Linked DNA regions of Homo sapiens. The protein of the gene in region 2 interacts with the protein of the main gene of each other region in a biochemical or structural test. Each region holds a gene or a part of one and is shown on either strand. Other genes may lie near its edges.

What was found.
Region 1: the proteins of GNG11 (region 2) and GNB1 form a complex in vitro, tested with the Homo sapiens proteins (3 studies listed by BioGRID).

The regions. Positions count from the first base shown.
Region 1 is NC_000001.11:1,881,088-1,884,587, forward strand, and holds part of GNB1 (guanine nucleotide-binding protein G(I)/G(S)/G(T) subunit beta-1), read right to left. Parts: intron 1-3,500. UniProt on the Homo sapiens protein: Guanine nucleotide-binding proteins (G proteins) are involved as a modulator or transducer in various transmembrane signaling systems.
Region 2 is NC_000007.14:93,924,735-93,926,922, reverse strand, and holds part of GNG11 (guanine nucleotide-binding protein G(I)/G(S)/G(O) subunit gamma-11 precursor), read right to left. Parts: intron 833-2,188; coding exon 707-832; 3' UTR 1-706. UniProt on the Homo sapiens protein: Guanine nucleotide-binding proteins (G proteins) are involved as a modulator or transducer in various transmembrane signaling systems.

The DNA.
Region 1 (3,500 bases), on a different chromosome or scaffold from region 2:
CTCGATGCAAAACATGAGAAAGCCTCAGAGACTCCTCAAACCCAACACACACAAACTAAACTCATCATGACCCACAGCCACCCAGAGGGCAGACGGAAACCTGTGGTCATTTACATCTTTCTCGCCACTCTCGCCTTCCCTTCGGTCACCAGGTCTTATCAATCGTCAACCTGGTCCAGACCCCTTTCCTCTTCTACAGCAGCTTTGCCAACTGACTAGAGTCCCCTCCCTCCCCTGAGCACTCTACGCTCAACTACCAAGTAATGATCCCCATCAGATCAATCTCCTTAAAACTCTTTCAGGGCTTCCTGGAGCTCTCGAGGTAAAAGTTCATTTTTTTCTTTTTTTTTGAGTCTCACACTGTCACCCAGGCTAGGGTGATCTTGGGTCACTGCAACCTCCGCCTCCCAGATTCAAGTGATCCTTGTGCCTCAGCCTAATGAGTAGCTGAGAATACAGGTGTGCGCCACCAAGCCTAATTTTTATATGTTTAGTAGAGACAAGGTTTCACCATGTTGGCCAGGCTGGTCTCAAACTCCTGACCTCAAGTGATCCGCCCGCCCTGGCCTCCCAAAGTGGTGGGATTACAGGCATAAGCCACTGTGCCCGGCCTCAAGGTAAAAGCTCTTTATCCAGACTGTAAACCTTTTGGCTTCCAGGTCTAACCACTCTCCTAGCCCTTTGGAACTTCCGTCCCTGGATGTGCTGTGCTCTTATGCGCTTGATAAATAATTACTGAGCACCTGGCACACAGTATTGTGCGGGGTGCTGGAGACAGTGAAGGAGACCAGTTGGTTGCCGGATGAAAAACACACCATCTCATCAGCCTAGGATACACTCCTCCCCTCCATCCCCACCTGCCTGCCAGACAGACTCCAATTCAGGTCTCAAAGCTTTTTTTAATGAGAAGCTGCCACTGAACTCTGGACAGGGTGGTGTCCCTGGGAGCCACAGCCACTGCCCTCCGCTCTGTGCCTGCGTGTCAGGCTCCCTATTAGACCATGAATTCAGCAAGGCCCTGGATCACATGCATTCTACTATGGCTCACAGCCTCAGCACCCAGTAAGGTGCTAAATTGGGGCCAGGCACAGTGGCTCACGCCTGTAATCCTAACACTTTGGGAGGCCAAGGAGTTCAAGAGCGGCATGGGCAACAAGGTGAAACACCATCTCTACTAAGATACAAAAAACATTAGCTAGGCGTGGCGGCATGCACCTGTAATCCCAACTATTTGGGAGGCTGAGGCAGGAGAAGCGCCTGAACCTGGGAGGCGGAGGTTGCAGTGAGCCGAAATCGTGCCACTGCACTCCAGCTGGGTGACAGAGCAAGACTCCAACTCAAAAAAAAAAAAAAAAAAAAAAAAGAGAGAAGGTGCTAAGTCAACATCTGTTAAACAAATCACCATTACAGTTTTTATAAAAACAAGTGGAAAATATTTAATTATTGTCCCTATCAGCAAATCAAGGGACGTCAACAAATTTTGGTGAAATTAAAAAAAAATCTAGCTTCATAAATGGGAGGAGGAGAATTCTCTAAAAAAATGAACATAAATGGGCAGGGCGTGGTGGCTCACGCCTGTAATCCCAGCACTTTGGGAGGCCGAGGCAGGCAGATCACGAGGTCAGGAGTTTGAGACCAGACTGGCCAATATGGTGAAACCCTGTCTCTACTAAAAATACAAAAATCAGCTGGGCATGGTGGCAGGTGCCTGTAACCCCAGCTACTCTGGAGGCTGAGGCAGGAGAATTGTTTGAACCCAGGAGGTGGAGGTTGCAGTGAGCCGAGATCATGTCACTGCACTCCAGCCTGGGTGACAGGGCAAGACTCCGTCTCAAAAAAAAAAAAAGGACATAAACTTACCAGTTTTCAAAATGAGGCATAGTTCAAGATTATTCTACAAAGGTAAAGGAAAGCCTTTAAGAGCAGGTTACTGTGGCTCACATCTATAATCCCAACATTTTGGGAGGCTAAGGCAGGAGGATCACTTGAACCCAGGAGTTGGAGACCAGCCTGTCTCTACAAACAATAAAAAAAATTAGCTGGGCACGGTGGCATGTGCCCGTGGTCCTAGCTACTTGTGAGACTGAGAGAAGAAGATCGTATGAGCCCAGGAGGTCCAGGCTGCAGTGAACCATGATCATACCATCACATTCCACACTCCAGCCTGGGTGACACAGCAAAACCCTGTCCCAAAAAAAAAAAAAAAAGAAAAAGAAAAAAAAACCTTTCAAGAAAAGATAAGGATGTGAGAGATTTAGTAGAAAGTAAGGCAGTAAATAAGTGATAGGGATTTGCAAAGATAGCTAATATGCATGTTCCACACCCTGAATTAATATTCTTCTGGAACCATGGAGAAAAAAAGAAAAATCTCAGTAAACTGTCATCTTATAACATTTGTTAACCTTGCCATAAAAGAAATTTTTACAAAGCAAGGCCATCAGCAACAGAAATAGCTAATCCTTGCACTGAGCTCTGTTATCAGTGCCCACATCAGGACTCATTTAATCCTCACAATGACCCCATGAAGGAGGCTCTAGGAGCCTGTTTCACAGATAAGGACAGACACAGAAGTCCTAACACTGCAGGTGGCCTAAATTAAGGCAGGCTCAGGGAGGACAGAAAGCTCCTGTGGAGTGGAAGGGTAGAAGTTGAACTGATCTTGATTTTCAGTGCGAATAAAAGTCCTAACACTGCAAATCAGCCAGTGAGGCAACAGAGCTGAGCTGGGCTCTAACTCAGACAGTGCCAATCCTTTTGAAAACTACTGAATTTCTCTCACTCCCTAGATTTTAGGAATTATTTTAAAATTCCTATGAGAAATTTTCTGAAACCTATTGTAGACTCTTTTGACATGCTCATCTAATTATAAAGTGTCCGGACTTTTTTTTTTTTTTTTTGACCGAGTTTCACTCTTGTTGCCCAGGCTGCAGTACAATGGCACAATCTCGGCTCACCGCAACCTCCGCCTCCCAGGTTCAAGCGATTCTCTTGCCTCTGCCTCCCGAGTAGCTGAGATTACAGGCATGTGCCACCATGCCCGACTAATTTTTTTTTTTTTTTTGAGATGGAGTTTCCTTCTTGTTGCCCAGGCTGGAGTGCAATGGCACGATCTCGGCTCACTGCAACCTCAGCCTCCCGAGTAGCTGGAATTACAGGCATGCATCACCATGCCTGGGTAATTTTTTGTATTTTTAGTAGAGATGGGGTTTCTCCATGTTGGCCAGGCTGATCCACCCTCCTCGGCCTCCCAAAGTGCTGGAATTACAGGCGTGAGCCACCGCGTCTGGGCTAATTTTGTATTTTCAGTAGAGACAGGGTTTCTCCATGTTGGTCAGGCTGGTCTTGAACTCCCAACCTCAGGTGATCCGCTCACCTTGGCCTCCCAAAGTGTTGGGTTTACAGGCATGAGCCACCACACCCAGCCCAGAATTTTTTAAGCTTTATTAACTACAACACTCGGCAGAAGTTGAGTGTCTGTAATCAACATAGGGAATATATTT
Region 2 (2,188 bases):
ACACGGCAGAGAGGCAGGGCACTCTTCCTGAACCCCAACTCAGTATTTTCTTCAAGGCTACTACTACAGGAACACTATTAAGAAGATCTAAATGATGATAAACTAGGGAAGTACTAACATAGATGTGGCTTGGCCTTGTTCCTGACTCAGATAATCTGACTTCTGTCAATGTTATAGGAATTCTACCTGCTCAGTTTCTTAATAGTTAAGGTTAGATCAAACACGTTCCAGAGGTCAGAACTCAGCACTCTAAACCATTGACGCAGGGTTTGGAGATGTGATCTGTCGAACCACCTAACCTTCTGAATCATATTCCAAACCCAATCATACTCCACACCCAAAAGATTACGGGGAGAAATATAAAAGTTAATGCATGAAAAGTGTCTTCTTAAATCACCAACACTCATCTTCCCAAGACAAAACTTTATTTGAAGCATCAAGCAATATACTGAAAGAAGTGTCATGCTCAAGTAATGTTCTTATTTCCATAATTGTACATCTGATACTCTCTGCTCTCTTAAAAAAGACTGCATAGTGAGCAAAGATGAGTAGCACATATGCTTTTATACATAACCCTATCTATATGGTGCTTAAGAAAGTCTCCTTTTAATTTCATTCTTCCTTCCTTAAAAAGCATGTTGGTTTTATCTGGGAAAACTAAAACAAACTAGTTCTTCCACTTAGGATGCAGTTTCTCCCAAGTTATTTATGAAATAACACAGCTGCCTTTTTCTTTAAAGGGGTTCTTGTCTTCTGGAATTCCCTTTACTAGAGGATCCTCTCCAGAACGTTCTTCAATATAGTTCTTTATTTCTTCAGAACATTTAGACACCTTAAGTATAGAAAAAAAAGAGAATACATTAGGTTAGGGTTGTTTAAACTTTGTCCCTACGCCTTAATGAAATAAGTATAATTGAATACAATAAGTTTTTAAACATTTTTTTACATTTACATATATATGTGCATGTGTGTGTGTATATATTATATATATAATACATATATAAAATCTGGGCTCTGCACTCTAATATTTTTATTCTATTACTATACCTATGATGCAACCTATGTAAAATATATTTCTTACTGTTGGTCGTTGGTCAAATTAAAAAATGTTTGAAAGTCACTGCATTAAATAAATCATCTCCAGCAGTTTTTTTCCATTGTGTCTCATATGATTTCCTTCCTCTGCTAAAATACAATTATGCCATGTCTACAATATTTTAGGAACTGAAATATACTCTTATTTTAATTTTCCATGCTAGTGAGCAGGTGCAGTAGTAGATAATCCCCAAATGTTTTGGGGTGTGTAATGCCACGATTCTCACTTATGGGTGTGTGCCATGTTCTGAAATTTCACGAAATGATAGAAGCTTTGGAAAAAGCCTGATTCTGGAAAGATTGGAATTGTCCAAATATCGCACTCTGTGTTGCTCCTCAGAATTTCTTCCTGCTGCATGAGGGCAATGATCATAATAAAAGACTTATCTGAGACTTATTAGGCTTATCTGAGAATAAATTTTTTTCTGAGATGGAGAAAAAATTGAATAGTGTCTTCAAAAAGTCTATTCTTAAAAGAAGAGTTTCTTCAAAAAGTCTATCTATCCTTAAAAGACAGGTTGCAAGAATGAATTAAAAAAAGAATAAAAACAAAAGAAAAGAAATTAGGGTTTTAATGAAGGCCTGTATTGCTAGTAAGAAATTTAAAGTAAAAATTACAGAAGTACCAGCAAATTTAATTTAATTTAATTATTTATTTCTTTTTGAGATGGAGTCTTGCTCTATTGCCCAGGCTGGAGTGCAGTGGCAGGATCTCGGCTCACTGCAAGCTCCGCCTCCCGGATTCTAGCCATTCTCCTGCCTCAGCCTCCCAAGTAGCTGGGACTACAGGCGCCCACCACCACGCCTGGCTAATTTTTTGTATTTTTAGTAGAGACGGGGTTTCACCACGTTAGCCAGCATGGTCTTGATCTCCTGACCTCGTGATCCGCCCGCCTTGGCCTCCCAAAGTGCTGGGATTACAGGCGTGGGACACCGCGCCAGGCCGCACCAGCAAATTTAAATGGAGACCTATGAAAACTGGGCAAATGTTCCCATTGAATTAGTAATCTAAATTAGTAACCTCAAACTGTTTTAACGGTTACTACTAAAACATGTTTGCATGTGTATCCCAAAATGAATATAATTTTTAACT